Regions from separate parts of the Homo sapiens genome. Here all the other regions are reported to be linked to region 3. Evidence: microRNA targets listed by miRTarBase, many of them from high-throughput screens and not tested one by one. Region 3 holds a microRNA gene; each other region holds the end of a gene's coding sequence. Distances are from middle to middle.
What was found. The annotated mature microRNA hsa-miR-6801-5p reads UGGUCAGAGGCAGCAGGAAAUGA and lies in region 3 at 4,646-4,668, opposite strand. An mRNA with a match to its seed (bases 2 to 7 or 8) in the 3' UTR can be bound and repressed. Matches are read on the target gene's strand: a 7mer-m8 pairs with bases 2 to 8, a 7mer-A1 pairs with bases 2 to 7 and ends in A, and an 8mer does both.

Region 1 (7,000 bases), 12 Mb from region 3:
ACTCTGCGGCGCATCCAGGCGTCCATGGCACCCGCGGCTGCCCTGCCACCTGTGCCTAGCCCACCTGCAGCCCCCAGTGTGGCTGACAACTTACTGGCAAGCTCGGACGCTGCCCTTTCAGCCTCCATGGCCAGCCTCCTGGAGGACCTCAGCCACATTGAGGGCCTGAGTCAGGCTCCCCAACCCTTGGCAGACGAGGGGCCACCAGGCCGTAGCATCGGGGGAGCAGCGCCCAGCCTGGGTGCCTTGGACCTGCTGGGCCCAGCCACTGGCTGTCTACTGGACGATGGGCTTGAGGGCCTGTTTGAGGATATTGACACCTCTATGTATGACAATGAACTTTGGGCACCAGCCTCTGAGGGCCTCAAACCAGGCCCTGAGGATGGGCCGGGCAAGGAGGAAGCTCCGGAGCTGGACGAGGCCGAATTGGACTACCTCATGGATGTGCTGGTGGGCACACAGGCACTGGAGCGACCGCCGGGGCCAGGGCGCTGAGCCCTCGTGCTGGAATGGTTGTCTGGTATCTGAACTGAGCCTGCTGGCTGGACCAACTGTCCTCGAAAAGACACAGCTGGCTTCCCTAGTACAGAGAACAGGGCTTGGGCCACTTTGGAGAGACAGAATCTAGTCCTGGGCAACTTCACATCCGTCCTCCTGTCTCAGGGCTGGCAGGGGGAGCCTGGAATTACCCCCTAGTGATGGAATGACAGGGTCTGGTGGGGACTGAATTCCCTGGCCCTGGGGTCATAGCTTGGGCTGTTCCTTCTCTGATACGGGAAGAGACCCCAATCAGATTTTTCAAATTAAAGCCAGTCCTGGGAAATCTCAAATCCGTGTGCTGCTTTGTCTCTGGGCAAATGTGAAGGCGAGATAAAAACATCAAACATTTTATTGGGCGTAGGCTGTGTACGAGGCACAGTTTCTAAGCACGTCACTGTGTTAACTCATTTAATCCTATAACAGCCCTACAAGATCGGTAGTATTATCATCCCTATTTTACAGGTGAGAAAACCAAGGTTCCAAGATTATCACTTGAGGTGGGTTTTAAATTATGAACTTTTTTTTTTTTTTTTTTGAGATAGGGTCTCGCTCTGTCACCCAGGTTGAAGTACAGTGGTCTGATCATGGCTCACTACAGCCTCAAACTCCTGGGCTCAAGCGATCCTCCTACCAGGCCACTTTTTTTTTTTCTTTCTTTTTTTTTTAAGACAGATTCTTACTCTGTCGCCCAGGCTGGAGTGCAGTGGCGTGACTTCGGCTCACTGCAACCTCCACCTCCCAGGTTCAAACGATTCTCCTGCCTCGGCCTCCCAATTAGCTGGGACCGACTAATTTTTTATATTTTTTGTAGAGACAGGGTTTCACCGTGTTAGCCAGGATGGTCTTCATCTTCTGACCTCGTGATCTGCCTGCCTCAGCCTCCCAAAGTGCTGGGATTACAGGCGTGAGCCACTGTGCCTGGCCTTTTTTTTTTTTTCTTAAATTTTATTTCTTTTCTTTGCTAGCAGGAAGTCAAGGCAACTTTTTAAAAATGAAAGCAAGTCCTCGCCTGGAGTCTACCTGTATTTATTGAGGAGCGAAGGGGAGATTGCTTTCAGAATGGTCCCGAAATAAAAACACAAAACCTGGACCCTGGACAGATCCTCTCCAAGGAGCCCTGAGAGTCGGCTCTCCAGGAAAATGGGGGAGGAAAGGGGGACAACAGCCCATTTTTAAAAATAAAATTCACTCCTGGTCTTAAATCTCTGGGCAAAGGATAGGGACGCTTGGAGCTGTGTCTGAAATAAAGCCACTAGGCTTGGTAGCTGGACTGCAGAGAGGGAGCTCAGGGCAGGCAGCTGTGCCTTCCTTCTAGAAGAAACCCAGACCCGGACGAGCTGGGGCCACCTGCCCGTGTGCTGGGCCTGGCTGGAGCGCCGGGTGTCAGCGGCCGCCCCCGCGGTCCAGCCGCATTCCAGGCCTGGCTGGGAGGGGCCGCACACTCAGCGGCCTGGCACGGGACCCAGGCTGCGTCCTTCCTGACGGCCGCAGGGACAGGGCGGAGCCTGAGGGGGGGTGCACGGAGGGGAGGGAGTGTCACCGTGAAAACTGCGGGTGCGCATGGAGAGAGGCGCAGGGGGCTGGACGGTGACCCGAGGGGCCAGCGGGGCCTTGAGTGAGGGAAACGCCGCCATCGTGGGGTCCCAGAGCCTCGCTTCTGGCCAGAAGCCTCGGGGAGGCAGAGGCAGGAGTGGAGCTGGGCCAGATGGGGAGCCTGGGTCGGCCCCAGGGGCCGGGAAGGGGCGGGCAGAGTGGCGCTTCCTGGAGGAGCAGAGGAAGTTGTGCCCATTTCTGGAAGTGGATGAGGCGGGCCGCGGAAGCGGGTGAAAATGGCCTGCGGGGAGCTGTCGTCCAGGCTGAGGGTCTTCCAGGCGCCTGACTCCAACCCCGAGTGACTCCAGCCCCGGGCAAATGGGACTCGGACTGCTTTGCCGCAGACTCAAAACTTGGGCGCCTGGGCTGAGCTCAGCACCGCCCCCTGGTGCCCAGTCGGGCTCTGCGGTGCCGCCGTCTTGGGTTCCCCGGACATCTGTCCAGTGGTCGAGGGATCATGAACGCCCTCTGTTTACAACACTCTGCGGGCCTGTTTCTTTCTTTTCTTTTTCTTTTTTTTTTTTTTTTAGAGACGGGGTCTCGCTTTGTCGCCCAGGCTGGAGAGTGCAGTGGCGCGATCATAGCTCACTATAGCCTCGAATTCCTGGGCTTCAGCAATCCTCCCGCGTCAGCCTCCCAATTAGCTGGGGTTACAGGTGCACGCCACCACGCCCAACTGATTTTATTTTTATTCTTATTTTTATTTATTTATTTATTTATTATTTTTTGAGATGGATTCTCGCTCTGTCGCCCAGGCTGGAGTGCAATGGTGCAATCTCGGCTCACTGCAGCCCCTGCCTCCTGGGTTCAAGCAATTCTGCCTCAGCCTCCCGAGTAGCTGGGATTACAGGCGCCTGCCACCATGCCCGGCTAATTTTTTGTATTTTTAGTAGAGACAGAGTTTCACCATGTTCGCCAGGCTAGTCTTGAACTCCTGATATCAAGTGATCCGCCCTGCCTCAGCCTCCCAAAGTGCTGGGATTACAGGCGTGAGCCACCATGCCCGGCCGATTTTTTAAATTTTTTGTAGAGACAGTGTTGCCCTATGTTGTCCAGGCTGGTCTCGAACCCCCAGGCTCAAGCAATCCTTCCACCTCAGCCTCCCAAAGTGCTGGGATTCCCGTGGGCCTGTTTCTTATTCTTTCCTTTCCCCGCTTTTTCAAAGAGATTGGGTCTCACTGTGTTGTCCAGGCTGGAGAGCACTGTCTGTACAGAGGAGTGATCATAGTGCTGTACAGCCTTGAACTCCTAGGCTCAAAGGATCCTCTGGCTTCAGCCCTCAGAGTGGCTGGGACTATAGGCACAAACCACTGTGCCCAGCTAAGGACCTGTTTCTGATGTCTCCGAGGCCCAATATGGGGTGAGCTGATCCTTCCGTCTGCCCCTGTGCCTGCTTTGCCACTGATGGCCCCTCTCCCCAGAGCCTCTAGGTACAGTTGCATAGGTTGTGCACTGCATATAGGCTCCGTATGTAAGGGGCTGCCACTGGTGTTCCAGGTACCCTGCATTTACATATTTATTACAAGTTTCCCAGCAGATGGAGGTCAAGTACCTCCAGGAAGGGGCATGTCTTTTACACAAAAGCACCATATGGGCTACATCAGCCCTGGTCCCGTCTGCCCGGTGCCCTCAGGTTTATGAATGGCTCATGTGTGAGGACCTGCCCCTCTCTCCCCATGTGTCACCCCCAGATGGGTTGTGCAGGCTCCCTGGCTCTGGTGTGCTGCTCCACCCTCAGGCTCAACCCCAGGAGGCCACACCACCTTGGCCAGCAGACTCCAGGGCCCACACCATTCCTAGCTGAGCCGCCAGCCCTGGCACAACTGCCACCTTTCACAGAGCCTCTGTGTATGCTCGCCATGACGCCCCCTAGGCCAGCTTTCCTCCATGGCATTCACAGACCACCCCCAAAACACACACACACACACACACACACACACACACTCTCTCTCTCTCTCTCACACCTGGAAGAGCTGTGACCAGCTATCTTGTCTCTTTTTCCTCCCTCCCTTCTTCCTGTCCTTCATTCAGCAAAAATTTATGAGCACACACCTACTGTGTGCCTATCCCTATGTAAAGGGTAAATCTGACCACATCTCTCCCCTGCCCCTGGGCCCTTATTACCCCACTTCTCTGGGGTCTGAATTCTGTACTTTCCAAGGCTCACCTTCTACCTCTGTCCCTATTCATTAGACACTTATTGAGTGGCCGGGCATGGTGGTTCACGCCTGTAATCCCAGCATTTTGGGAGGCCGAGGCAGGTGGATCACAAGGTCAAGAGATTGAGACCATCCTGGCCAACATGGTGAAACCCCATTTCTACTAAAAATACAAAAATTATCTGGGCAAGGTGGCGGGCCTGTAATCCCAGCTACTCAGGAGGCTGAGGCAGGAGAATCACTTGAACCCGGGAGGCGGAGGTTGCAGTGAGCCGAGATTGTGCTGCTGCACTCCAGCCTGGCGACAGAGCGAGACTCCATCTCAAAAAAACCAAACCAAACAAAATTAAAAAACACTTATTGAGCACCTATGGTATGCAGTCCCGGCACACTTTAGAAATCTAACAGAGATATTATTGAAGCAGTAAGCTGGAGAGAAGAGACTGTTCCTGAAAGCCAGACTGCCTGGGTTTGAACCCCAGCTTTGGCCAGATGCGACGGCTCACGCCTGTAGTCCCAGCTACTCAGGAGGTTGAGGTGAGAAGATCACTTGAGGCCAGGAGTTTGAGGCTGCAATGAGCCATGATTGCACCACTGCACTCCAGCCTGGGTGACAGAACAAGACCCTGTCAGAAAGAAAGAAGGAAGGACGGAAGGAAGGAAGGCAGGAGGGAAGGAAGGAGGGAGGGAAGGAAGGGAGAGAGAGGAAGGAAGGAAGAAAGAAAGGAAAGAGAGAGAAGAAAAAAGGAAGGAAGGGAAAGAAAGAAAGGAAGAAAGAAAAGAAAGAAAGGAAGAAAGAAAGAAAAGAAAGGAAGAAAGAAAAGAAAAGAAAAGAAAAGAAAAGAAAAAAGAGTTACCGCTCTGTGGCTGTGTGACTCTAGGCAAGGTACTTAACTTCTCTGAGCCTCGGGGTCCTCACCTGTAAACTGGAACAGTAACAGTATCTGCCCCAAAGAACTATTGTTCTGGTGGGCAAGGAAACAGCAAGGGTCACTGAGAGAGAGACCCTACAACATTTTCAGGGATCTCTAAGCTGCTGGGTTTGGCTGGAAGGAGGAGGAAAGCAGTAAGGTAAATGACAAGACTGGAAGGGTCCGCAGGGGCCAGGGCATATAGGACCCTGGATGGGGGACTTAACTCTGAAGATGCTGGGGAGTCATGAAGTAAAAGGATCCCTTCACTAGGTGGGTGGCATCGTCGGGGAGGTGACACTGGAGGCCAGGAGCCCAGGATCCCAGGGGTGGAGAATCTGGGGAGGGACGGAGCAGCTGTTGGGAGGGAAGAGGCACTCAGGAGGCCCAGCAGACAGGCTGTGGGACTGACAAGGCCTGGAGGAGGGGTCTCAGACCAGGCTCAGGGCTCTAATCAGGGGACTGGGAGACACTGGGGCCATCCCTGAGATGGCAACTGGGGAGAGAAGCAAGTCTGGGGTTGGGGCTGAGGCCAAGGAGGGACCCAGGGGGTGCAAGAGGCTGGGGAGACACCCAGGGGAAGGCATGGAGCTGCCCGGGCCCTGGGCCGGGAGCTCAGGAGAGAGGACTGGGGTGTGGGGGTGGGCGTGAACGGTGGGATCGAGGGAGACACCAGTGTCCCTTGGCTGGACTGGGTGGGGCGGAGTGGCTAGGCCACGCAGGGCAGGCCAAGGCTCCTGCTTGGCTCAGACTGAGTCTGGAGAGGGTGGTCCCTGAGAAGAAGCGTCCACCTCCTTCCCTAGCCTCACAGGATGTCCTGTGTTTACTGCGGTGGCCACAGCCGGAACCAGGACACTGGGGCCACCCCCAACTTAGCTTCCCGTGGCCACACCCCCTTGGGTGAGGGAAAGCATGACAGAGAGAGAGGGAGAGAGAAACGCACAGACAGAATGAGACAGAAAGAAACTAGGAAAGAGAGACAAAGAATAAGGACAGAGAGAAACAGAAGAACAGAGAGACACAAAGATAGAGACACACAGAGAGACACACCATTCGTGATAAGAATTCACAACAGTCCAGGTGTGGTGACTCATGCCTGTAACCGCAACAGTTTGAGAGGCCAAGGCGGGTGGATTACCTGAGGTCAGGAGTTCAAGACCAGCCTGGCCAACATGGCGAAACCCCCATCTCTGCTAAAAATACAAAATTATTGCTTCTTGGCCTTTTGGCTAAGATCAAGTGTAAAATACAAAAATTAGCTGGGTGTGGTGGTAGGCGCCTGTAATCCCAGCTACTCGGGAGGCTGAGGCAGGAGAATCTCTTGAACCCAGGGGGCGAAGGTTGCAGTGAGCCGAGATTGTGCCACTTTGCTCCAGCCTGGGTGAAAGAGCGAAAACTCTGCCTAAAAAAAAAAAAACAAAAGAAAAATTAAAAAAAAGAAAGAAAATAACTCACAGCAGGCCAGGCACAGTGGCTCATGCCTGTAATGTCAGCACTTTGGGAGGCCAAGGCAGGAGGATCGCTTGAGGCCAGGAGTTTGAGGCCAGCCTGGGCAACATAGTGAGACCCGCATCTCTCAAAAACAAGAAAACAAAAAACTCACAGCAAACTAGGGAAAGAAGCTTCCTTAACCTGATAAAGCGTATCTACAAAACATGGACCGCTAACTTCCTACTTTATGGCAAAAGGTTAAATGCTTTCCCCTAAGACTGAGAACAAGCAAAGATCTCTGCTCTCTGCGACAAGGGAAGAGAGGGGATGTTGTGTACCAGCCTCCCTTTTCTGTTTGACCCTGAG
Region 2 (7,000 bases), not on the chromosome of region 3:
CTGTCTACAATAAGACACAGGTGAGGGACAAAGGTGGGTTGGGTGTATAGGTTTTTGAGAGGTTACAGCCCAACCTGACCTTCACCATTGTCTTCTTTGCCCTGTAGACTTTTGACAAGCAGGGATTTCATGCAGGGACGCCTCCACCTTTCAGCCTGCCCTCGGTCTTGGGCTCCACTGGGCCCCTGGCCTCGGGAGCGGCCCCTGGCTATGCACCCCCACCATTCCTACACATCTTGCCAGCCCACCAGCAGCCCCACTCACAGCTGCTGCACCACCACCTTCCGCAGGATGCACAGGTGAGTACAGTGATGGAGGCAGCCACCCTACTCTGGGCCAGGGGTTCTGCTCCAGCCTTGACAGCCTTCCCTTCTCCTCTTCCTCAGAGTGGCTCGGGTCAGCGCAGCCAGCCCAGCTCCCTGCAGCCCAAGTCTCAAGCCTCCAAACCTGCCTACGGCAACTCTCCATACTGGACAAACTAAACCCAGAAGAGAGGGGTGGGCTGGGGCAAGGCTTATCCTGGGCAGGAGAGAACACACGAGCACGTATTTGGGAGCCCAGTGCCCTTTCCTAGAATTCCCGACATGTGTCAGCCATGCCTCTGTGGGGAGTCTGCCTCCCAGACTGGCTACTGTATGTAATGTATTTATGTATGTATTTGTAAATGTGATAGAAGTCTGGGGGGGAGTTGGGGGATGGCGGCAGATGTTAGCCAGGTCTGCCCTCCCCATTCAAGCCCCTTCTCCACTGTAGCAAAATAAGCACCCCCACCCCATCTGCCTTCAGGTCTTCTTCACAGCCTGCACTGCCCAGTGGGCCACTAGGGGCAGTCTCTGGAAGGGCTGGTTCAAGGCTGTTTGGGTATAGGGGTCAGGTACCAATGAAGAATCACGACTTGTCTCACTCCTTTGGAAATTGTTTTCTTTCCTGTGTAATTACTTCATACCTCTGTTTTTGAGAAACTGTTCCGTTTGTCATCTGTCATGGTCTCCTTCCACCAAATCTTCATCTGGGAATAGCAGCGGTATCCCTCCACCCAAGTATGGCCACCTGTTTGTCTTCATATAGAACAGGGGCTTCTGGTCTGGTCATGTCCCTAGAGACTTACTAGAGACTGGCTGACCATGAAAAAAAAAAAAATAATCTGAGTTATTCAGCCAGTCAGCTCCCCTTTAAAAATCTAAGGTATCTCCAAGCAACACATCTCCATTCTAGTTGTCTTGAACCACGTGGGCAACTGTTTCAGGGGTTTTCTCTTGCCCAATCCCCACCTAATAAAGTTCTGAGAGCATGCATGGTCTCTGTGTGGTGTGACTGAAGGGCAGCTCAGGGCAGAAGCCCTGGACTTCACAGGGCTAAAGGAGATCCCACATGGTCATAGTCTTCTGACACAGGCTATAAAGGCTTGAAATGGTTTTCCTTTTTACTGGACCCTCTTGGCCCAAATCACAATGGCTGTAAGGACAGCTAAACCTCCTTACAGGGCCCAGGCCATGTTGATCAAAGTTAACCTGGCTTTTCTTATAGCTCCTTAAGAGACTTAGGGATAGGGCAGTGTCCCACAGAGCCCTGTCCACTGGATACCAGGGCAGGGTAATTTCTTTTCCAAATCTCAGTGGACTTTTACAATCTGAAGCAAAGCCAAGAACTGAGAGCAGGGTTCTAGGCCTTAAGGGAGAGTATGAACAGGTATACCTGTCTTTTGCTTGTCATCAACTGAACATAATCTTGATTGGCAGTCAAAAGCTATGGTAGAACACGTGACTAGTGAGGGTGTCATGAGGTAGGCTGGTGGATCCGGGGCTACATATCTGCTCCAGAAAAGCCCAACCAACCATTCACCTTGTGTCAGGTCAGAAGCCAGGGAGTAACCAAGGGCCATAGGAAGGAGGCAGATCTCCTGTTGGCCAACCACAACTGTGCTCCAATCCAGCAGGCAGGAAGCTCAGGGCCTAGAAGTGTTGCCCAAGGTGCTACAGCCTCTCTTTTCACTCCTAAATCGCTGCTTCAGATCAGGTTAAAGGAGGAAATAAAATGGCTAGTCAGGTGATTGATTGATTGATTGTGTCAGAACCAGCCTGGGGTCACAATCTACTTTTTCTGCTTTTGGCCTCTACAATTGAGAGCGATGGTCCTGTCATCAGATGGGACCGATACTCCTATTAACCCACAGCTTGGGACCTTACCTAGAAAAAAGGTAAGTGTCTACAGGTAAAATTAGGACTTTTATTAAATAGGGTGATCTGCCTGATCCCTGCTATTAGCAGCAGTAAGTTAGGAAAACAAATGACAGTGAAAATGTTTGCCTAAGGAAAGCAGCAGAGCACCCCTCAATCCTTCACTGACCTACTTGTATCAGCTCCCGTTTTCAGAATCAAGTTTAACAAATGGCTACGTCTATAAGGAGCTTGAAGGGACTGGGGATACACCAGGGAGGTGAGTTAGTTAGAAAGGCAGATTCCCCAGTTTTGGTTTTTGTCTAATTTTTCAGCTGAGCCCCAGCGTAATCTGCAAACTTAACAGTGATAATGAGACCACCTTTTAGTTTTCTTTAACACAAGGTAAAAAAAGAAGAGGGTCATTTCATGGGGAAGTAGCAATACAGGTATTTTATTTCACATTTTATTAGTAGACAGATGGGCAGAAAAAGACAAAATAAACCACTAAAGGGGAAGTCAACACAAAATCCGTCAGATAATCTTTTCTCATAAGTTAAACTGAAGCAAAACATCTACAATTTCAGCTAAAACTATTAAAGTCAGGTGTGTCCTGCTGGTTTCAGAATAGTTGAAAATTGCATCTGAATCCTTTTAGTTGTAAATGTAAACCTTGTTTGTTTTATCAGGATGGGAGGGGTGGAGAGTTCCTTTCCAGTGGAGAGCTGCACATTTCCCCTTCCAATCAGTTTCTTACAACATGTGCCCCAAACGTAAGGAAACCAGCAAGTAAAGAAGCAATTTGCCAGGGTAAGGGAAAGAAGGTTCTACAAAAAAGTTTGACTAATAGAAAATAACTCTGGAATGATTGATAAAAGGAGAAGGGGGGAAGACTGAAAGAATCAACAGCAGAATCATATACTTCTCCACCCAGCCTCAAAATACACAGAACTGAAGAGCATCTAGTGAGGCCTCAATTAGAACTAAAAGGAATCTAAAAATGCAGGATTTTGAGTTCATGTCACATCAAATAATAAGCAAAACTGTACGTACATGGTTCCGGATTGAGCCTGAGACCTCCACTCCCAGAAGGGGGAAAAAAAATTACAAACTCAAGTATTTTCCACAGGGATGTGTTCTCAGGGACAGAGCTCTGGAACCAGCCTCTGGGTTTCGTTCAGTCAGTCTAAAATACCAGAATGTCCACCTGCTAGCAAGAGACTTACCCAGTCTTCTGGAACTGATTGTACTCATCAGAGGCAAACCCAGCCCTTGACACTTTTAACACCCCAAAGGGCTGAAAGGTACAACCTCCACTTGGCGCTCCGGCTCCCTGAGTCAATGTCTAACAGAGGCCAATAGGGCCTGATGGAACAGCTGTGCAGCAGAGCACCTCCCGCAATGCCAGGGTGCTGGGGCTGCCCTGGGAGTGAGATGCTTTAGCAAAGGGGAATGAAAGGCTTAATTTTAGGGCTCCAAGAGAATAAGACCAAGCTACTGGCTGTAAACTTGCATGGGGGTTTGGGGGCATTTTGGGGGAGGTAAATCAGCACTGTGAGAGGCTTTGGCTCCACAAGATTTGCAGGTTAATCTGGAAGCATTACTTACAAAGTATGGGGAGTAAAAAGGTAGTTCCAACATCTATGAGAGTTTGTAATCAGGTAACTTGACAATGTATTACGAAGCTGCTCTGTTCCATGGATCTGACTAAAATCACTAGATTCTGGGTGCAAGTAGCAACCCTGGCCCTGTGGAGATCACAGATTCTGGGACCAGGCTCAACAGTGTCCCCTAAGAGCCTTGCTTGTTAAACAGTCCCATTTCATACCAGACCAAACTTTAGAGGCTGGGAAGGGCTGCTGGGACCAAACTTTAGAGGCCGGGAAGGGCTGCTGGGAAGAAGTCATGTGTTTGGGAGTTTGAAGAGTGAAAACCCTGAGATCAGAATGGAAGGAGGAGCTAAGGAAGTAAGCGTCACCTACTCTGGCCATCCTAGGATCCCTCCTGCCCCGTCCCTAATCTGCCCTTTGGTTCTTTCTGAGTTACGAGCCAAAGGAGGAGTTGACACTAGTGCCCAGGGGTCTGAAATAGGACTACAGTCAGTCCTTGCTGCATTTTCCTTCTGAAATCTGATTTTACATTATAGCGGTTTCCTCCAAATAATGCCCTCCTATGATCTGGTGCACCCCCATAACAACCAAAAATTACCTTCAAGTTCTGAAGTCTCCTGGATGGTGAAGGCTGCTGGATCTCAATATTGATTGAAGCAACACGATTGAGATCTGGAAAATCAAAGCTGCAGCAAGTGCATTGCAGGAAGATCTAGCCTTATCTGGCCTAAAAACTGCCTGCAGTCAACTCCCTCAGCCCTGCCACAATTTCTATGCATAATTCTGCTTGCACTCCACAGCCTAAGTATGTTGAAAGGAGAAAAAAAGTTCAGATCACATCCAATGAAGAAGGCGGTAACTCGTCTCACACACATCCAAGTTTTTCACTATCAGTATAAGCAGCTCGATGAAAACCGAAATCTTAACACATGCACCTAGGATTAATACTGAGTAATTAAAAGTGGCTACTTAAAAAACAAAAACAAAACGTCATGGTACGAGTGTATTTTTGATGGGAAGGCCATGCTAAATCTATAAAACAGATGTTTCCTCTCCCAACAGTGGTCACCAGTAGTTTCAACTTTTTCCCCCCAGTAGCATCAACCAAACTTAGCATAGTGATTTTTAACTCTTTGCTCCCACACGCACTCATCCCAACTTCCCCGCTTGCCCCACTCCCTGGGGGGAAATAACCCTGCCTTTAAAATAAATAGCAACCAAGTGCTCAGTTCTATGGAAAGTATGAATATTTATTTCAGGCTTTCGATCCCAATCGATTTCAAAAAACAAAGTCTGATTTCTCTCCTCAGAGCAGCTGAGGCCTCCATGTTACGATGGTTTCATGGAGATTGAAGGAGCACATTTCATCAGGCTTAGCACAAAGTCCCTGATGCCCACCATGTCCCAGCCTTAGGAAAGGAAAGAAACAGAATTCACCACCATGGGGCTGAACGAATGCACACACACTAATGTAAATGAGCAGCTAAACCTTGGCAAATTTGTTTTTTTTTTTTTTTAAAGTTTGTTTTGTGGGTTTTTTTCCATTTTCTTTTGCTACCCAGTATATGCAGCACTTGTGAACTCCCAACAGGTTCCCAGCTTTAAACACATTAAACATCTTGAAAGACTATTGAATTCTTCAAGAATCTAAAAACAGACCAAACGTGTTTTGCTGTGAACATTCTGTAGAGACGAAGTGAGGCGGGAGTTTGGGTTCATATTTTTTAAAAAAAGAATCAATATAGTGATGGAAGGGTAAAGAATGCAAGAATTCAGACATTCTGTGGAGGGTTACTCTCTCTCCATTAAAGGTCCATAAAAAGGAGCAAACTGAGATCCATAAGGGGAGTCAGCAGGAGCTGTGTGTGTTTCCCCACCCGCTGTGAATAGGTTTTTGCTGAGGGGCCATGGCCAGGTCCCCACTTGCTCCCCTCCCTTTGGCCTGAGATGGCAGGGCAGTACAGGGGCACTGAAGGAGCACGTCACGACTCCTCATTCCCAGAATCATCATCATCATAACAGTCGGCATCTTCCTCCTCCTCATCTTCATCATCAATGTCGTCATCATACAAGTCGTCGTAAAGCAAATCTGAGCTGTTGTCATTGGAAGGCACTTTAGTTTTGATGCAGTATTCCGCCAGGGTTGTGGGGACCTTCACTCCATCCTTTTCTGCTTCGGCCTTAGTGGCTGAAACTTGTTTCCTGAAGGGAGGTTGACACAGAAATGGTTTACGGTAAGTCTTTTTTTAAGACAGATTTATAATTGGCCTTAAATAATCAATATTACTTATGACTCAGCTCTCCAAACTTCAGTACCTGCCTGAAAGCATCTGACAGATACCCTGTACTACACCAAATGCTTTCAACCCACTGGGTACAATTTTGAAGTAAACTTTGACTTTTTAGGAGGGGAAATACACTGTTAATATCAAGGGAGTTTAAAGCAGTGGATCAATTATAGCCAGAATCACCTCGTCAACTGGCTGTCCTCCGATTCATGTAAGGGCCAATAGGTCGGCGACTTAAGAATCAGAACAGGTATTGACTTAGTGGGCGGAATGTCATGCTTTGTTGTTTGCATGTGTGAAGCACAGGGATAACTGCCAGAATAAGAATAGATAATAGAAGGGCTAATACGCCTCCTAGTTTCTTGGGGCTAGATCATAAAGGTTGCATATGTGAATAAAACGTCCCACTCTGGTTTAATGTGGGGTGGGGTGCTTAGGGGATTGGCTAGGGTTTTGGCCTAGTCACCTCACCACCAAACTCAAGTGCCCCAACAATTCTTAATTTAATTATCCTCTTAATTTTCACTGACAGTAAAATTCAAATGCCTATGCCAGATTCCAGTGTCTTGCACGACCCACTCTTCCCCACCCAAGACGGAGTCTTGCTCTGTCACCCAGGCTGGAGTGCAGCGGCGTGATCTCGGCCCACTGCAACCTCCATCTCCCAGGTTCAAGCAATTCTCCTGCCTCAGCCTCCCAAGTAGCTGAGATTACAGGCTCCCGCCACCCCACCGGGCTAAATTTTGTATTTTTAGTAGAGATGGGGTTTCACCATGTTGGCCAGGCTGGTCTCGAACTCCTGGCCTCATGATCTGCCCACCTCGGCTTCCCAAAGTGTTGGGATTACAGGCATGAGCCACTGCACCCGGCCACATGACCCACTCTTGTATTTTCTCCAGCCCTTCAACACATTCACCCTGGTCTTTTTTTGGCATCTCGGACACAC
Region 3 (7,762 bases):
CAGTCTGGTTCCAAGGCACCTGCTCTTAACCCCCCAAATACTCGGCCGACATCTATGAATCTGAACTGCACTACAGGACACCACCCAGAGCACCTCATGGACCCTCTACCCCAAAGGCCAGCAGCACTCCTGGGGGGATCCCCAGAGTATTCTTTCGGGACATAGGGGTATAATGGGTCCTGTAACAAGATCTTCTCCAGAGAAAAGCGCAGATGTTGTGGCTCTGGGGTGGTGCCCCCTCCTCCAAGCTGATGACTAAGGCCAGAGGACCAACTACTTCTAGACCTTTATTTCTCTGTGAAAAGGGGGAAAATAAAAGGAATAAAATAAAAACGGCACAGTTGACACACAAAAAAAAACCAATGATGGGGAGGACGGGAGGTGGAGAAGTAAATGGGGGAGGGGTTCCCATTACAGCAGCAGGATCCAGTGACCCGGGATGCTCACATCTCTCCCTGACGTGGGCGGAGTAGCCCCTTCCTCCCAAGGTCACTGTCCTGTCCAACCCCGTGCTCCCCTAGCCCGTTGGGAGGTGGACAGTGAGACATCTTCCCAGGCTGGGGAGAGGAGGAACCGTGCTGGGGGAAGGGGCCTGGGGTCAGACCATGCACAGGGAGTGACAGCCAAAGGCCCCCCAGTGTCTCCCCAAAGAGGGACTTGTGGGGGTTGGAGGGTGGACACCAGAGGCCAGTGTTTGCTCCTCTTCCAGCATCAGGCGAGAGACAGAACTAGGAAAACAGGAACAGGCAAGAATCAGAACCAGAGCCCTCTCTCTGCCCACAATGCCAAGGTACCTCCCCCTCCCAGAAGCTGCTGCCCACAGGCCCAGTGCCTGTCCTCAAAGTCCACCCTCCTGCTAGGGCTCCGTGCTTTCTAGGTCTTACCAGTCAGAGCCTCCTGGGCAAAGTATTTGACGTCCACATCCTGGTCCTGGGTCAGCTTCTCTAGGATGGGCTTGACTTCACTCTGCAAGGTGCTGGAAAGCGAAAGGAGACAGGGAGAGAGAGGGTGAGCCAGGATGGACTGGGGCAACAGGTGGGCACAGGGCTCTTGGGCAAGAGAGTGTACACAGACACGGATACACCAAACCCAAGGTGGGAGGAGTCTCAAGAATCCAGGGCACACACAGGAATTAGAAATCTCTGATCACTGCACAGGCGGGTGACCATAGTTAATAATAACATTTTGCATATTTCAAAACAGCTATAAGAGAAGATTTTGAATGTTCTCATCACAAAGAAACAGTAAACATTTAAGGTGATAGATATGCTAATTATCCTAATTTGATCATTACACATTTGCACACATTATTGAAACACTACTATACCCCCATAAATATATAAAATTATGAGTCAATTAAAAGTAAAATCAGGCCGGACGTGGTGGCTCACATCTGTAATCCCAGCATTTTGGGAGGCCAAGGTGGGTGGATCATCTGAGGTTGGGAGTTTGAGACCAGCCTGGCCAAACCAACATGGAGAAACCCTGTCCCTACTAAAAACACAAAATTAGCAGGGCGTGGTGGTGCACGCCTGTGATCCCAGCTACTTGGGAGGCTGAGGCAGGAGAATTGCTGGAACCTGGGAGGCGGAGGTTGTGGTGAGCCAAGATTGCATCATTGCACTCCAGCCTGGGCAACAAGAGCGAAACTCCGTCTCAAAAAAAAAAAAAAAAAAAAAAAGGTAAACTCAAGGCCGAGCACGGGGGCTCAAGCCTGTAATCCTAGCACTTTGGGACGCCAAGGTGGGCAGACCACTTGAGGCCAGGAGTTCAAGACCAGCCTGGACAACATGGGAAAACCCCCATCTCTACTCAAAGTACAAAAATTAGCCAAGCATGGTGGTGCACACTTGTAATCCCAGCTACTTGAAAGGCTGAGGCACAAGAACTGCCTGAACCCAGGAGGCAGAGGTTGCAGTGAGCCGAGATCGCACCACTGTACTCCAGTCTGGGCGACAGAGCGAGATTCTGCCTCAAAGGAAAACCAAACAAACTGCAAAAAACCAACCAACCAACCAATTACTTAAAGGTCAGAAGTATGATAAACAAGGACTGGGGCCCCAAACAGGGAGATCAGAGCAGGCTGGGAAAGTGGAACAGAATCTCAGAACCCCCAAGTCTCTGAGGCCCAGCAAATGGGTATCTTTCATTGATTTCACACATATTCACTGAGGCCTACAATGTATTAGGAGTGAATACAGAGCTAAATCACTCTTGATTTCTGCCATGAGGCACCCGGGCCAGGAGGAAGAGACCAAACTGGTACGTAAGAGGGGAGTGGTAAGTGGCCCCAAGGGGAAGTTCCTGGTCCTCCAGGAGCCCAGAGGAGGCATCCACTCTCATCTATGGGGCCCAGGGAAATCCGCCTGCACCAAGAGTCAATTGTTTTGGAAAACGGAGGGGGACTTCGGAGAGAAACTAAAGCTGAGGTTGTGTCCTGGAACAGACAGAAAGAGAAATCTGCAGTTGTGGGTCCCACACTTTCAGTTGACAGTTCCCTGTTCTCCCCAAATAACCACTATTCTTACTTCCATCATCTCGATTCCTTCATTCTGCCTGTTTCTGAACTTGACATAAATGGTGTGTTTTCTTGATTTTGGCTCCTCACTCAACATGGTATCTGTGAGAGTCACCTGTTGCTGCTTATAGCAGGCATTTGTTTCGTCACTGCTGAATAGTTTTCCACTGTTTGAATGAACTAAAATTTATCTACTCTACTGTGGACAGACATGGAGGTTGTTTCCATTTTTACGGCTACTATGAATAAAGCTACCATGAACATTCTTCTGACAGAAACAGCACTCATTTCTCCTGGATAGAGACCCAGGAGTGGAAGGGCTGTTTCACAGGCTGTTTGTATAACAAGCTTCACCAAATTCCACTCCAGATCCACTCCCGTTTTCAGAGTGATCAAACCCTAAATGTACAGCCCCACGTGCAATGGATGAGAGTTCCAGCTCTTCTATGTCTTCACCATTTGCACCACTGAGTCTTTTTTAATGTTGGCTGTTCTGGGAGGCGTGTAGTCATATGTCACTGAGATTTAATTTGCATTTTCCTGAAGGCTAATGATGCTGAACACCCTTGTCATATGCTTACTGGCTATTTGGAGATCCTTTTTCAAGTGCCTATTCAAGTCTTTTTCCCCATCTCTTTCTTGTCTTGCCTGATTTGTAGACAGGTATTGTGGATGAGTCCTTTCTCAGAAACATATATTAAAACATCTTCCTCCAGTCAGTGGCTTGCATTTTACTCTCAAAATGCTGTCTTTTGAGAAACAGCGTTACATTTTACAGAAGGTCAACTTACCCATCACTTCCTCTGGTTTGCTGTTTAACAAATCTGTGCCTACGCTAACTCAAGAAGATATTTTCCTACATTTTCTTCTAGGTCCTTTATTTTTAAAATCTTTCTGGTTCTGGTCTGTCATCTCAAATTAATTTGTTTATGCATTGAGGCGAGCCTTCTTTTATTCCTAAATGGATATCAAATTGACTCAGCTATGTTTTTTAAAAAACATACATTTCTCCACTGAACTGCAGAGATGCCTACTGTTAAACACATGTGGGACTGTTTCTGTACCCTTGATTCCATTCTATTGGGCGATTTAAATATGCTTGTGTTCACATCTATTTTAATTATTGTGGTGTCATAAGTCTTCGTCTCTGGTAGTGTAAATCAGACAACTTTGTTCATTAGAAGTGTCAATTTTCCACTAAAGAACCTGTTAAGATTATTGGGCTTATACTGAATCTAAAGATGAGTTCAGGGAACTGTCCCATCCGTGAATATTATGTAGGTCTGCTTTAATTTTTTTTGAGACAGTCTCGCTCTATCGCCCAGGCTGGAGTGCAGTGGCATGATCTCAGCTCACTGCAACCTCCACCTCCTGGATTCAAGCAATTCTCTTGCCTTCAGCCTCCCAAATAGCTAGGATTACAGGTGAGTGCTACCGCACCGGCTAATTTTTTGTATTTTTACTAGAGACGGGGTTTCGCCATGTTGGCCAGGCTGGTCGTGAACTCCTGACCTCAACTGATCCGCCCACCTTGGTCAGGTCTGCTTTAATTTCTCACATTAGTGTTTTACAGTTTACATTAGAGGTGTTACATACACATCTTTCATTGAATTTATTCCTGGCTATTTGATATTTTTGGTGCAATTATAAATTATACACATACTTACATATAAAACATAAGGTGATTTCATTTTCTAATGACTTGTTGCTAGTATACAGGACTGCCAACCCATCACCCCCTCTTTCTATTTCATGCTGTGATGTTCATTTTACAGTTGAGAAAACACACCTTGAGAAGGGAAGGGAGCCAAGGTCACACAGCAAGCAAGGAGCGCTGCCAGGCCTCTGACCCTGGGCTCTACCTTCAAAGGTCAAAGATTAAGGTGCCCACAAGAAGCCCCTGCCAGTGTGTGGGGGAGTATCCAGACCTCACCTGTTGTCCAGGATGGGCCCTATCTTCTGCAGAGACTTGGCCACATTGAAGCGGACATTGGCAACCGGGTCCCCAGCCATGCGCAGAACCGTGGGTAGCATGTGCTTGGTGGTGATGTCCTGCCCACAGACCTCAGACAGCACCTGGGGGCCAGTGAGTGGCAGGGGTGAGTATGCAAAGCTCCTGGCTAACTCTCATTTCCTGCTGCCTCTGACCAGGCCACTCTGGTGATCATCAGGCCCCACAGAGGCTGAGCAATACGGGTGACTCAGTTAGTGGAGTGAATCTCCCAACTCCACTAACACCATCCTAACACCATGTCCCAGTTTCTCTGTCCTCAGGCTTCCCTTAATTATTCTGGAGATCGACCTTAATTACCAAGCCCTAGGATCCCTCCTTAAAGCAATGCTCTCCAGAGAGTGGCGTGGGAAGAAATGATCAGAACACTTAGTTATATTTATTTTTAAATCCCTTCCTTTCTAGCCCTGTGTATGGTTTACACATAAATAAGTAGTACATGAGATAATTATAATCGTAGGAAAAGCAAATAGACAGGAGCACTTCCTACCTGTAGCATAACTGTTCTAAGCCCTGTGCGTGTATAACCTGATTAATCTTCACGCTCACCAGGCTGTGATTACCAGTATGAATTCTTTACAGTATGAATTATTTACAAATGAGAAGACCAAAGCATCGGTTAGGTAACTATCCAAGGTCCATAGCTAATATATGGCAGTACCAGAATTTAAAACTAGGTCTGACCTAGAGCCCATACACTCACCCAACGCACCACAGATAGAGACACACATTTCTCAGGGAAGGAGAGGGGTGCTCATAAAGCTTGAGATCGCTGCTCCAACAGGTCAAGTCTCCCAGGCCCTGGGTCCCTCACCATCCAAGTCCCCAGTCCCAGAGGCCCTATGACCCTGACCCTGGGAGCCCCACCCCCTTGCCTGCAGTTCCCCAAGGACTCATCTCTGGATAGAAGATGCACTCCATGTCTCCATTCCCAAGCCAGGTGTCTCCCTTGGGGAACCCTCTAGCATCCCTCCTCTCCCACGCGCTCCAGTTCCCTAGGGATGGGCCAGCAGGCAGGTGGAAGGCTCACATTGATGCAGAAGAGCGTAGTCATGCGGTGCAGGTAGTTGGGGTCTCCGGACATGGCCAAGACCTTGGGGATGATTGTGGCATGGGCCCACTCCTTCCCAAACTTTTCCACTAGCTTCTTCAGGTTGCTGGTGGCTGCCTCGCGGATGGCATATACTGCAGAAGGGTGAGGGTGAGAGAGACAGGGATTTGGAGGTGAAGAACTGATGTGGGCAAAATGTAGGTCACACTCACCATGGCTTACAAAGCAGCCCCTAGGTGCCAGGCTGCATGTGAGCCAAAGAGAGAAAAAAGGACTTACTATGTGCTATATCTAGTAACTGTTTTTTTTTATACAGTATCTTTTCAACCACTCCAAGAGGTAGGTTCCACTACTGGCTTCATTTTACAGATGGGCAAACTAAGGCTCTAAGAAGTGATTTGCCTAAATTATGTGGCACTTATTACTTCAAACAGGGCTTCACAGAGATAAATATTACCTTTTATTTTTTACCTCTCTTAGTGTAAACAATGAGCCATTCTCATAATGGCCCCAAGGCACCAGAATAAGAAGTTTCAAAGAATGAGTGTGGGGCTCATTCAAAGACAGCAGGTGACTTGTTTTAGATCTGACAGCCCCAAGGGCAGGATTCAAAACCCTGGTCTGGCTGCTCAGTGGCCCTCTGGCTCTCCACTATACCAGGCAACCCCTGGGTGATCTGTTTCGTCCTCCTCCCACTCAACACTTCTCTAGGACTCTAACAAGCATGCGAGCTGGTCCATACGAGCATCCAGCGGCGTGGGGAGTGACTCTAGCCTCCTCCACTGCCCGCCACAGCCCCAGCCAATCCATCCTGCCTTTCTGGAGCTCCCATCTCCTCTTGCTGCTCCTGTGAAGGTACTCACCATGATCCACAAGCCAGGCCATGCACAAGGAGTTAAGTTTCTCATCAAAGAACTCCACTCCCTACAGGAGAAACCAAGGGTTCCAAGGTAAGCGTTCCAGGAGAGCAAACAGGGGGAGCTGCTAGCCACATCCCATGGAACCTACACCCACCCTAGAAAGACCGGACACTTCTCAACTTTGTCTGAGGTGCTCCTTTCCCTCCTCTCTCTTATTGAATCCAATGCATCTTTTAAGGCCCTATTTCCTGGGTCCCTTCCTTCGACTCCCCAGGCAGTTGTCACAGCCTCCACTAAGCCTTCAAAGCCCCGTTTCCCCATCACAGCCCTGGACATACTGCACCTCCCCTGAGGCAGCACTGCCTGGCCCCCAGGCCTCCTCACTCACCAGCTGTCCAGCCAGGAGGGGCATGTACTCAATGATGGCCAGCCGCACCCGCCACTTGGCGTCCTCAGCCAGCTCCACAATGGCAGGGAGCAGGGACTGGGACAGCTGCCGGATGCCAATCACCTCGTTCACACAGTCCAGGTTAGAGATGATGTTCAGCCGTACCTCAGGGCACTGAGGAGAGGAAAGAAGGATTCTGAGAGAATGCAATGCACACAGCAACCCAGGACAGGATGGAAAGAGCTCAGCTGCATCAACTTTTATGGACATCTCCCGAGGGACTACTCCTGTCCAAGCCCAGCTCCCCGTTCTGGGAACACATTAACGGCACACAAAAAGCAAGCAGCATGGATCACTAACTTAAGCAGATTTTTAAACCTTACAATAGTATCACAAGAAATGTTTATCCATTTTGAAAAGACTTTAAGAATCACAGTAGGAAAATACAGCACCCTGGAAAAAACAGGCAGACATGATTCTTCTAATCCTAGCTCCGCTGCTTGCTAACAAGGGTTCCTTTCTGGGTATCAATCCACAACATGGGAGAAGGGAAGGAAGAAAACTATTTCCTTATTAAAACTATTTTAGTCTAAAAAAATAAATAAATAAAGGAGCACTGAAATGAATCAATAACCAAGTGAACAAGCCTGGCAGGCTTGGGCTGTTGAAACCCTGCACATTCCGAGGATAGGACTGGCCCTTGCCCAGCTCCAGCCCTTGCTGTGTGAGCCTCAAGCTGCTGAACATGTGCATGAGAAGAGAAGGCTCAGAGACTATACCTCACCCATTTAAAAAGACTTATTTTTGGTGCACCAGTAAAAAGGTAGCCTTTTTCATTTAGACAAGTTTATAAATTCTGGTGAGAGTCAAAATGTAAAATATAAAGTTTATAAATCTAAAATGGAAATCTCAAATATAAGTCAGATGAATTCCT

Region 1: miRTarBase lists SERTAD1 as a target of hsa-miR-6801-5p. Seed matches in the 3' UTR shown: 7mer-m8 at 1,392-1,398.
Region 2: the mRNA of UBAP2 is a reported target of hsa-miR-6801-5p. Seed matches in the 3' UTR shown: 7mer-A1 at 1,119-1,125.

The regions. Positions count from the first base shown.
Region 1 is chr19:40,416,331-40,423,330 of GRCh38, reverse strand. SERTAD1 (SERTA domain containing 1) reads left to right here. Exons shown (of 2, transcript NM_013376.4): 2 at 1-1,742. The coding sequence ends at 495. Among named protein-coding and RNA genes, the nearest start is that of SERTAD1, 6.2 kb to the left of the region's middle. RefSeq lists a silencer at 1,973-2,062 and enhancers at 2,353-2,472, 2,138-2,638.
Region 2 is chr9:33,915,986-33,922,985 of GRCh38, reverse strand. UBAP2 (ubiquitin associated protein 2) reads left to right here. Exons shown (of 29, transcript NM_001370062.2): 27 at 1-20; 28 at 108-299; 29 at 387-1,293. The coding sequence ends at 482. It overlaps UBE2R2 (ubiquitin conjugating enzyme E2 R2), which reads right to left. Exons shown (of 5, transcript NM_017811.4): 5 at 2,587-5,968. The coding sequence ends at 5,749. Among named protein-coding and RNA genes, the nearest start is that of SNORD121B, 15 kb to the left of the region's middle.
Region 3 is chr19:52,218,931-52,226,692 of GRCh38, reverse strand. MIR6801 (microRNA 6801) reads right to left here and starts at 4,673; the gene lies at 4,595-4,673. It overlaps PPP2R1A (protein phosphatase 2 scaffold subunit Aalpha), which reads right to left. Exons shown (of 15, transcript NM_014225.6): 10 at 6,829-7,002; 11 at 6,444-6,504; 12 at 5,560-5,714; 13 at 4,452-4,594; 14 at 885-976; 15 at 1-728. The coding sequence ends at 712. RefSeq lists an enhancer at 3,934-5,133.